Homo sapiens: one gene and its partners. The protein of the gene in region 1 interacts with the protein of each later gene in a pairwise test. Each region holds a gene or a part of one and is shown in the gene's direction. Other genes may lie near its edges.

Region 1 (3,724 bases):
CCCCTTCCTACTCATCCCCGTCCCCAAACTTGCCTCCATCACCACCACCCCATCCTGCTCCTTCCTCCTTACCTCATCTCCTCACTCCCACCTCCAACCACACTCCTATCCCCATCTCCACCTCCTGCTCCATTCCTCAGGATGGATCTCCTCCTATGTCACAGGTTCCCTTGGAGTCTAACACCCCTCACCAGCATCCCCGCCAGGTTCTGGGGTGTCCCCCAGGTTGTCTGAGCATTGAGGAAAAGCCCAGAGCCATGCCAATAGACAAAACGAGCAGGACAAGATCATCCCTGGAGCAGCCCTTAGCTTCCTCATCCTATCTGGGCCGTAAAGGCTGGATGCTCACCAAACAGTAAAAATGAGTTCAGATGCAACAAGACAAGTGGAGGGCTGGCGCCCAGACAGACCTCCACACTGCGGGCATGTGGCAGTGAAGCGGGGATGGAGAGACACCCTCATAGAGCCCCAAAGCGGGGCCGGGGCAGGCTTTCTCAGGGGGCTGGGAGCGTAACTGATCCTATCAGGCATGGCGGGCCAAGGAAGAGGGGGCATGGAAGCAGGAGCAGGGATTTTTAGGGTTGATTAGGAGTGCGCATCCCCGGGTCTCTACCCTGCCTGTGGCCCTTGCTTAGTCAGCTCAGATTAATGGGGCCAGGGAGAGAATTCGCTGAATCGTGATCTCTTGGGGAACTTGACTGGAGAGCCAGCTGTGAGTCATGGAGAAAAGGGAACCTGTGCTCTCACAGCTACTCTAGAAGCTTCCAGGGGTAGGCAACCCTCCAGATCCTCCCATCCCCTTCCAGAATGCAACAGAAAGCCCACTGCAAGGTCTGACCCTCGCCCTCCACCCCATGCTCACAGGAGGATGCACTGTCAGTCAGCTCCAAATCCTGCCCTCATACACCCTCCGGGGCCTTCAGGGCTCCCCCCACTGCCTCTGACAAACTACAGCACAGAGACACACATACACACAGAGACACACACACACAGAGACACACACCCAGACACATGCACAGAGATACATACATGCACACACGCATACATATATACATACAGAGAGACACACACAGAGACACACACAGACACACGCGCACGCACACACACAGAATGAGAATGGGGTGCATCCCTGGAACCAGATTGCCTGGAGACAGTTGGAGGTCCCACTTACACTTGTAAATTCCATAGCCATGTCCCGGACTGCACCAGCCCATCAGTCTCGGAAGGCATAGAATGTACATGAGGAAGGACACACACACACACGCACACACACGCACACACACACACACACACACACACACACACACATCGCTGTGATCAGAAAACCCAATTATCAGACTCTGCACTTAGCACCCCTCCTCCACGCAGGCCCAGAGTGACCACAGCAGTCTTCACTGTCAGTGGGGGCAGTGTCCCCAGCTTCCTCTGGAGAGGGTTCCTGGAGCCCACGTTGGGCACCAAGAGCATGTGGCTTCATAGAGGTGGCTCTGCTTCTCTGTGCCTTCCCGCAAGCGTGGTCAATCTGCCTAAAGTGGGAAGGGTTTTGGAGAAAAAATTATTTGGGGTGGCAATGCCAAATCCAGTATGATCTGAGGGTGGTCAAGGGAGAAAGATGGCAGCTGGAGCCAAGGAGCTGGATGGGCTCAGGAAAATGCCCCCAGAGCCTGCCCCTTCTCCAGGGACATGATTAGGTGCTGAGAGCTGCTTCCCATAGCCCCAGCACCTGGAGGAAGGAGCAGCGCACAGATGCCTGCATAGCAGGGAACAATCTCTCCCACTGGTGGGACCTCGGTTTCCCCATCTGTCAGATAAAGAGGGGCTTGGGTGGGAGGGCCTCCCAGTGCACTTCTCACTTCAAGGCTTAGTAAGTTCAAGGAGATAACCACCTGCCCATCCCCTGTGCAAGATGGCATTGGGAGAGGAGGTGCACCAGTATGTATTTGCCTTGTACTAAATCTGTATTATTAGTAGTGGTGGCAGAATTAATATCCTTAATAATAGATTGGTATTAATGAGCAGTTCTGATAATGATATGTACAGAATGTGAGAGGCCCCTGGCCCAACGGACAGTGGGATCCTGGGCCATTTCTTTGCCCCCACTCAGGTGGACAGGCAAAGAGCGAGCGCACCAGCAGGACGAGGGCCCTCTTGACCATCCCCCTGGGGCACACCCCTAGGAAGGGCAGATGTTTGAAGGTAAAAAGATCTCACTCAGCCCCATCCCACTCCTGAAATCCTACAGGCCTGGGACCCCAGGGGAGGAGGCAGGGGCACCAGACAAGCTGGTGCTGGTTTAACTTCTGAGGATTTTGACATTCTGGTTCTCACTCGGTCCCCAGGACAGCCAGATGAGGTATGTAGGGCAAAGATGAGGACTCCATTTTATAAAGGAGGGAACAAGGTTTATTCTCATGACTAGCCCACACCGAGAGCAGAGCTGGGAAAGGACCCTCCTGCAGTCCTTGGTCGGGAGGACTCACTGTGAGGGAAAAGGGGGATTCTGTAGGGAAGCCAGGATCTGGGCTCAGTGAAGGCGTCCAGAGATTATAACGCCAGGTTACGGGGGAGGTGAGACCAAGCTCCAACATCCCTGTTGGTCTCACAGATCAAATCCTCTGCTGCCAATCACTGCCACAGCCCAACAACTCCAAAGCCAATTACCTACACAGCCCACAGGAGGCTGGGGGTGGGACCATCGGGCTCAGCCCTGGGTGACTTCATTACAGGGGTAGGACTTCCGGGCCACAGGGACCCAGAGCTAATGAGTGCTTAGAGGTCAGCCACTTCATCCCATACCCCAGCCCATTTCTCCATCCCCTTCAGCCAGTGTAGCTGGAGGAAGCTTGTTGAGGAGGGATGAAGGCAAGGCTTCACAATCTGTGCAAAAGCCTCCTGGTCCTTCACTCATGCCCCACCTCATCAGCCATTCTTTGGCCCTTATCACAGCTGGGCAGACTGAGGATTTCAGGGAACTTTCTTCTCTAGAAACCAATGTCTAAGGCCTCAGATCACTGCTTTCTGAACACTGCCCCCTGGAAGGATCAAGCAGGCAACAAGTTCCTCCTTCTCAAAAGTCCAGCTTTCCAGTCAAGCCCTGAGTGGTTCTAGGCCACCTTGTCCACCTCCAAGTCCTAGGTCAGGCCAGTTCTCACCATCAGACTCAGCCATGGCTTCAAAAAATCCCTGGGAATAGGTGAGCACCGTGGCATGCACTTTTAGTCTCATATACTCCAGAGGCTGAGGCGAGAGCCTAGGAGTTTGAGACCAGCCTGGGCAACAAAGCAAGACCCCATCTCTAGAACCTGGGGAAGGTGGAGGTGGGAGAACCTTCTCCTTAAACTGCCTGTCCAAGGGGGTTTTATGTTTTTGGAACTGGGAATTCCCCTCCCCCACTAACCTTGGCGGGGCAAGCTTGCTGACCTTGCTTCTGGGAGCAAGATGTTGGGGTAGGCTCCCAGCCTCAGAGCCTGGACTCCAGAGTAGCCAGGGAGGCAGGAGGGTGGAGGAGGCAGACCATGAATGACACCCACAAGTAAGAGCAAAAGATCCCTGGAGGCCGAGGATGCTTAGGTGGGAGGTCTCTGTCAAGGAGCATCTAAGGAGTAGGAAGAACCCAGTAGGGCTGATCTCTCAGACTAGCAGAGGAGAGAAGGGGTCCTAGTAGGTATGTCTCAGAAAGGAATGGATGGAAGCTTTGAGGGGTAGCATTTCTTGTTTCCTTGAA
Region 2 (3,126 bases), on another chromosome or scaffold:
CCTGCTTTTGGCCCTGCCAGGACGGGCTCTGGCCACCCAGGACCCTGAGCTGGAGGAAGCGAGTAAATGTCTTACTGGTTTTTTGTTTTTTATTTATTTTTTAAGACAGGGTCAGGGCCGGGCGCGGTGGCTCACGCCTATAATCCCAGCACTTTGGGAGGCCGAGGTGGGTGAATCACGAGGTCAGGAGATCAAGACCATCCTGGCTAACATGGTGAAACCCCGTCCCTGCTAAAAATACAAAAAAATTAGCTGGGCGTGGTGGCGGGTGCCTATAGTGCCAGCTACTCAGGAGGCTGAGGCAGGAGAATGGCGTGAACCCGGGAGGCGGAGCTTGCAGTGAGCCGAGATTGCGCCACTGCACTCCAGCCTGGGCGACAGGGCGAGACTCTGTCTCAAAAAAAAAAAAAAAAAAAAAAAAAAAGACAGGGTCTTGCTGTTGCCTGGGCTGCAGTACAGTGGCATGATCATGGCTCACTGCAGTAGCGACCTCCTGGGCTCAGATGATCCTCCTGCCTCAGCTTCCCAAGTAGCTGGGACACGGGTGCATGCCACCACACCTGGCTAACTTTTGTATTTTTTGTAGAGAAGGGGTTTCGCCATGTCGACCAGGCTGGACTCGAACTCCTGGACTCAGCTGGGCGCGATGGCCCACGCCTGTAATCCCAGCACTTTGGGAGGCCGAGGTGGGCAGATCACCTGAGGTTGGGAGTTCGAGACCCGCCTGGCCAAAAGAGAAGAAACCCTGTCTCTACTAAAAATACAAAATTAACCGGGCGTGGTGGCTCATGCCTGTAATCCCAGCTACTGGGGAGGCTGAGGCAGGAGATTCACTTGAACCCGGGAGGCAGAGGTTGTGGTGAGCTGAGATCGCGCCGTTGCACTCCAGCCTGGGCAACAAGAGCGAAACTCCGACCTCCCAAAGTGCTGGAATTACAGGAGTGAGCCACTGCGCCCGGCCTAATCTTTCTTAAACGTATGTATAGCTCACATTTATTTCAGTGTTTAATATTTCAAGTGTTTTCATCCTTATTTAGAAGTTTGGTGATGTGTTTGTACCAGAAATATGGCATTGGAACTTCACTCTTGTTTATGTTAATTAACCTGCGTGAAATTGGTTTCATCATATGTCATTTTGCTTAAAGCCATAGTTTCCAAGAGCCTGTTGACAGCATTAGGTAAGGACTTACGGTGTCCTTTGTTGATGCACGTTGTCTCATCAGCCAGTCTGTTAAGCACCACCCACATGCCAAGCTCTGTGTTGGCTGCTGAAGGCCGGATGTGAATTGGTCAGCCTGGGTCCCCACCTTCACAGAGCTGTGTCCTCATCCAGGGACAGTGTGCAGTGGGCAGGGCTGGGGACGCAAGCTGGGAGGGAGGAAGGGAAGGAAGTCGGTACAAAGGCTCAGAAGTCTGAGCGAATGTCCTCAGGGGGCAGAGGAGAGGGTGAGGGAGGGATGGAGGCAGCTGGGCCCGCAGGCTGCAAGAAGCCTTCCTCGGACACGCTCTCCAGGCTGGGAGACCCGCTCCAGGGCTGGAGCCAAGCAGAGAATTCGCATCCCCATTCGGATGGCTGCGCTGATGGTGCAGCCCTGGAGGGAGGAGGCGGTAGCTGCCATTCCCAAGGGAAGGTGGGGGTCAAGGGCAGGAGAGGGAGGGCTGCAGGGCTCAGGCCTGGTGACTGCAGGCTCCTGAGAGCAGCCAGCGGGAGGGTGAGCTTCCTTCAGCTCAGGGCTGCACACCTGCCGCCTCTGTTCCCCCACTTCTGCTCTGCCAGGCTTTCTCTGAAAAACCTGGCGCCTCACGCCCCAGCCGTCCTGGGATTTCTGGTGCCCCCCAGTCTGGGCCTCCTCCCTTCCTCTGCTTGCAGCAAAACACCCGAATGAAAAAAAAAAAAAAAAAGATCCATGGCCAGGTGCAGTGGCTTTTGCCTGTAATCCCAGCACTTTGGGAGGCCAAGGCGGGCGGATCACTTGAGGCTAGGAGTTTGAGACCAGCCTGGCCAACATGGTGAAACCCCATCTCTACCAAAAATACAAAAATTAGCCGGGTGTGGTGGCACACAGGCCTGTAATCCCAGCTACTCGGGAGGCTGAGGCAGGAGAATTGTTTGAACCCGGGAGGCGGAGGTTGCAGTGAGCCAGCATTGCACCACTGCACTCTACCTAGGCAACAGAGTGAGACTCTGTCTCCAAAAAAGAAAACTCGCCAGGCGCGGTGGCTCACGCCTGTAATCCCAGCACTTTGGAAGGCCGAGGCGGGCAGATTGCCTGAGCTGAGGAGTTCGAGACCAGCCTGGGCAACACAGTGAAACCCTGTCTCTAATGAAATACAAAAAATTAGTAGGGTGTGGTGGCGTATCCCTGTAGTCCCAGCTACTCTGGAGGCTGAGGCAGGAGAATTGCTAGAACCCGGGAGGCGGAGGTTGCAGTGAGTCAGAGATTGGGCCACTGCATTCCAGCCTGGGCAATGAAGCTAGACTCCATCTCTTAAAAAAAAAAAAATCCATGAGCATCTCCTCTCCTCCAGCCATGCCCTCCACACACACAGGCACGTGGACAGACACCGAGTGCAGCCCTCCTACCTGGGGCCTGCCTCTGCCAGCACAGTCCCCTCCTGTATGGACCCTGGCCTACCCTCCAGACACTACATGGCAGCCACTGTCCTTTTCGAGCACCCAAACGAAGATCTGCCTGTCCCGAGCTTCCACGTGTTCCCCAGGGATCTTGGCCAATATTATAAGGCATGATGATCATGGTTGACTTCCACAGCCCCCTTTCCTGTGGCCCAGCCTCCAGCCCTTGGGCAGGTCACCTGGAGCATCTTGGTGGAGTCGCAGCGCCCACTTCCCAGGGCATTGTGAGGGTTCGCGCTGAAAGCACGTGCAGCCTGTCATGGGGGTTATCAGGAAAAGTCATGGAGGAGGAAGGGAGCCTGGGGAAGACCCCCATTGTTCCTGAGGGAAGGGGGAGCTGGTTCTTGGGGGCTGATGATCTGGGGATCCAGAGAGCCTGCAAGGTCTGCAGAGGTGGGTGAGGGAGCCCCAGCACCCTAGAGGCCTGCCCCTGCCCTGGCCGGGCTGTGCCAGAGCCCCTCCCTGCTCACCCCTGAACTGACGAGCACCAG
Region 3 (4,103 bases), on another chromosome or scaffold:
TTCCCCAGCAGGAAGGAGAAGGAGGCTGTCTGGAGGAAGGAGCACCAACCACGCACAAAGGACTGGCAGTGGGCAGTCAGAGTTGGGGAACAAGGTGAAGGAGCAGAGAAAAGGGAGAAGGGCCACAGCTGGTGGTGACCCAACCCAGCCTGAGCGACATCCAGCTCTACTAACTCACTCCTGAAGGGCCCAGGGTTCCACCTGGCTCATGTGAGGAAGGAGTTCTCACTCCCTCTAGGTGGATGAGGCCAAAGTCAAATCCAAGGCTAGGACAGTCATGCAACTCCTTCTTCCTGACGGTGTGGCCCAGAGCAGGTGCTGGACACAGAACCAGTCACAGCAGAGGCTCCACTGCCAGAAGAAATGATGGTTGCTGTCCAGTGCTTCCCCTGCTGCTTGTAATGTCCTCAGAGCAGCTGCCAGTGCTCAGGGTGGCATCCAGGCCCCACCTTCAGCCCCCAGCCCCAGATATGCCCTGGGAGCCCAGCCAGGGCCGTGAGCTGGGCAGGTCCCCAGGAGGGAGCTCACAGCCAAGAGCAGAACTCCTGCCAGCTGTCCTCCTACAGAGCTGCTGTAAGAAGCCAGCAAAGGCTCAGACAAGGGAAGAGATGTATAGGGAGGCGGCAGAATCCAGGCATCTCAAACTGCGTGACTCCGGGGCCAGGAAGCTGTCTACCTTCTTGACACACCACTCTTCTTGGCCCTGCTCTGCACTCCTGAGGGTCACCTGTGTGGACAGCATCAAGGGCTGAAGGGGAGAAAAAGAAGTCAGGGATGGGACTTCCTCCCATCCCCTGCCAGCCTGTAGGGTCACTGAGGCTGGCTTTTTCTCCCCTGAAGGCCACTGCCTCTCTCAAGGTGGTCCTGTCTACACTACTCTTTCTGGGTTCCAGGGACCATTCCCACCCTTTTCTATGCAGGCCAGGGGTCTGCTACTATCTTGGGGTAATTGTGTGACCCTCAGGGTTCCCTACACTCTGCTCCCACCTTTATTAATTGTCCCTTTATTAAATCCTCCTCAGATGCCCTGGTTTGCAAGAATTGGCCTCAATTCTGCACAAGTATGCCTGGCTCTGGGTTTGGAAGCATGGGCAGGCCCATGTGTCCCACACAGTCCCCTTCTACCTCAGGTCCCAGCAAGACACGAGGCCACTTTCTGCTCATCTTGTCTGCTCCAGCCTACTGGCCAGCCTTCCAGGATTCCAAGTCCAAGTGCCTCAGGCCAGGGTCTCATTCCCCCAGGGCACTCCTCCTTTGTGACTTCACTCGCTGAAGTCATCTGGGAGACAGTGCCAAATGTTCCACTCCAGAGTCTTGGCCTCTAGGAGGCAGGAACAGCAGGCCTGGCCAGCCCAAAGGACTCTCTATCCAGGATGTAAATGAGCACACTGCTGGCCCATGCGCCTCGGGGCTGTAGAGGGCAGCCTCAGAGGCACTGGGCATTCCTGGCACCATGGATGACGCTGCTGTCCTCAAGCGACGAGGCTACCTCCTGGGGATAAATTTAGGAGAGGGCTCCTATGCAAAAGTAAAATCTGCTTACTCTGAGCGCCTGAAGTTCAATGTGGCGATCAAGATCATCGACCGCAAGAAGGCCCCCGCAGACTTCTTGGAGAAATTCCTTCCCCGGGAAATTGAGATTCTGGCCATGTTAAACCACTGCTCCATCATTAAGACCTACGAGATCTTTGAGACATCACATGGCAAGGTCTACATCGTCATGGAGCTCGCGGTCCAGGGCGACCTCCTCGAGTTAATCAAAACCCGGGGAGCCCTGCATGAGGACGAAGCTCGCAAGAAGTTCCACCAGCTTTCCTTGGCCATCAAGTACTGCCACGACCTGGACGTCGTCCACCGGGACCTCAAGTGTGACAACCTTCTCCTTGACAAGGACTTCAACATCAAGCTGTCCGACTTCAGCTTCTCCAAGCGCTGCCTGCGGGATGACAGTGGTCGAATGGCATTAAGCAAGACCTTCTGTGGGTCACCAGCGTATGCGGCCCCAGAGGTGCTGCAGGGCATTCCCTACCAGCCCAAGGTGTACGACATCTGGAGCCTAGGCGTGATCCTCTACATCATGGTCTGCGGCTCCATGCCCTACGACGACTCCAACATCAAGAAGATGCTGCGTATCCAGAAGGAGCACCGCGTCAACTTCCCACGCTCCAAGCACCTGACAGGCGAGTGCAAGGACCTCATCTACCACATGCTGCAGCCCGACGTCAACCGGCGGCTCCACATCGACGAGATCCTCAGCCACTGCTGGATGCAGCCCAAGGCACGGGGATCTCCCTCTGTGGCCATCAACAAGGAGGGGGAGAGTTCCCGGGGAACTGAACCCTTGTGGACCCCCGAACCTGGCTCTGACAAGAAGTCTGCCACCAAGCTGGAGCCTGAGGGAGAGGCACAGCCCCAGGCACAGCCTGAGACAAAACCCGAGGGGACAGCAATGCAAATGTCCAGGCAGTCGGAGATCCTGGGTTTCCCCAGCAAGCCGTCGACTATGGAGACAGAGGAAGGGCCCCCCCAACAGCCTCCAGAGACGCGGGCCCAGTGAGCTTCTTGCGGCCCAGGGAATGAGATGGAGCTCACGGCTTAAAGCCCAAGCTCTGAAGAAGTCAAGGGTGGAGCCAGAGAAGGAAGGCAGTCCCAGATGAGCCTCTATTTTCATCAGCTTCTTCTCTCTCCCCTTGAACTTGGTAACCCACATGGTTCTCCCGTGGCCCCTAGGTGGATGAGGCCAAAGTCAAATCCAAGGCTGAGACAGTCGTGCGACTCCTACTCCCCCAGAGCGTGACCCGGAGCAGGTGCTGGACACAGAGCCTGTCTCAGCAGAGGGTCCCCACTGGCCGCAACGGCTCAGTGACAGCAAGAGCAGGAAGAGCAGCAGGAAGGCACCGCTGTCCACCTTGGGCACCATTTATCCTCCTTTCATCGTCCCCGGGGCAGTTGCGTGACCCTGCTGGGAGGCCAGACCGGGCCAGACTGAGGGTCAGGGGACCAGGCTGGGTTGGGGGTTGGGTGGGGCTGGACGGGGACGAGGCGCGGAGAGGCGGCGGGAAAGAGCTTCGGCTGGGCCACGGGCTCGCGGGCACTCTCGGCGGCAGCCTCGGGGGCTCCGACTCCAGCTCTGGGCAAGATCCATAAACTTTTAAAGAAGCCTCAAAACATACTTTTAAAGCATTAAGCTTTAAAGTGCTAGAAATCTTGTGCCCCATATGTGCTTCTTTCAGTATTATCCTAGATCCTCAGGAGTAGCATGGCAACTGGAGAAAATGGGAGGAAAGACAAGAAGAAATAGAAGCTGATTTAACATCAAGTTTATTCAGTTTTGATTTTTCTTATCTCTACTGGCTTTCTCCTGTTCAAACCTTGCAGCGATAATATTTGGAAAAGAGCACTTGGAAATTATATTCCTGTTTTTAACTCTTTATATTTAATCATTCTCCTTGTAATTGATTTTGTAGCTAATTTACTCCCCAGCACCCCCAGAAGAAAATTTTACAAAGGAAAATGTTTTATTTTTATTTTTTCCTTATCAACTTTTTATTTAAATGCTAATATCCAATTAATGGACAAACGAATCAGCTAATACTGGAAACAATGTAACAATAGTGAAAAGCATGAACTTTTGATTTCTATAGACCGAATTTGACTCTGCTACTAAATGATCTTGGGCAAGTTGGTTAATCTATATGTCTCAGTTTCTTTATCTATAAAATGAGAATAATACAACTTCATTAGGCATGCTATTCATTAATGTGTTTAGTTCTCATAACCCTATGGGAGGGGTCCTATTATTATTCCCATTTTATAGACACGAAATTGAGTAAAGTCAGTTTAGGTCACTTGTCTCTGAGCACATGATAAATACGTGGCAGAGCCAAGGTTAAAGCCCAGGTACACTCCAGCTCCGAGCCAACACTGTTAGCTGTTTTTTTTTCTTTTCTTTTTTTTTTTTTTTTTTTTTTTGAGACAGAGTCTCGCTCTAGCCCAGGCTGGAGTGCAGTGGTGTGATCTCGGCTCACTGCAACCTCTGCCTCCCGGTTCTGGGTTAAGCAATTCTCCTGCCTTAGCCTCCTGAGTAGCTGGGATTACAGGCA

What was found.
Region 2: the proteins of FOXN1 (region 1) and TRAPPC6A interact in binary tests that used the Homo sapiens proteins (3 or more experiments, as listed by UniProt).
Region 3: the proteins of FOXN1 (region 1) and TSSK1B interact in binary tests that used the Homo sapiens proteins (3 or more experiments, as listed by UniProt).

Annotation. Positions count from the first base shown.
Region 1 is NC_000017.11:28,509,307-28,513,030, forward strand, and holds part of FOXN1 (forkhead box protein N1), read left to right. Parts: intron 1-3,724. UniProt on the Homo sapiens protein: Transcriptional regulator which regulates the development, differentiation, and function of thymic epithelial cells (TECs) both in the prenatal and postnatal thymus.
Region 2 is NC_000019.10:45,165,292-45,168,417, reverse strand, and holds part of TRAPPC6A (trafficking protein particle complex subunit 6A), read left to right. Parts: intron 1-3,126. UniProt on the Homo sapiens protein: May play a role in vesicular transport during the biogenesis of melanosomes.
Region 3 is NC_000005.10:113,432,190-113,436,292, reverse strand, and holds TSSK1B (testis-specific serine/threonine-protein kinase 1), read left to right. Parts: upstream 1-1,303; 5' UTR 1,304-1,453; coding exon 1,454-2,557; 3' UTR 2,558-3,740; downstream 3,741-4,103. UniProt on the Homo sapiens protein: Testis-specific serine/threonine-protein kinase required during spermatid development. Phosphorylates 'Ser-288' of TSKS. Involved in the late stages of spermatogenesis, during the reconstruction of the cytoplasm.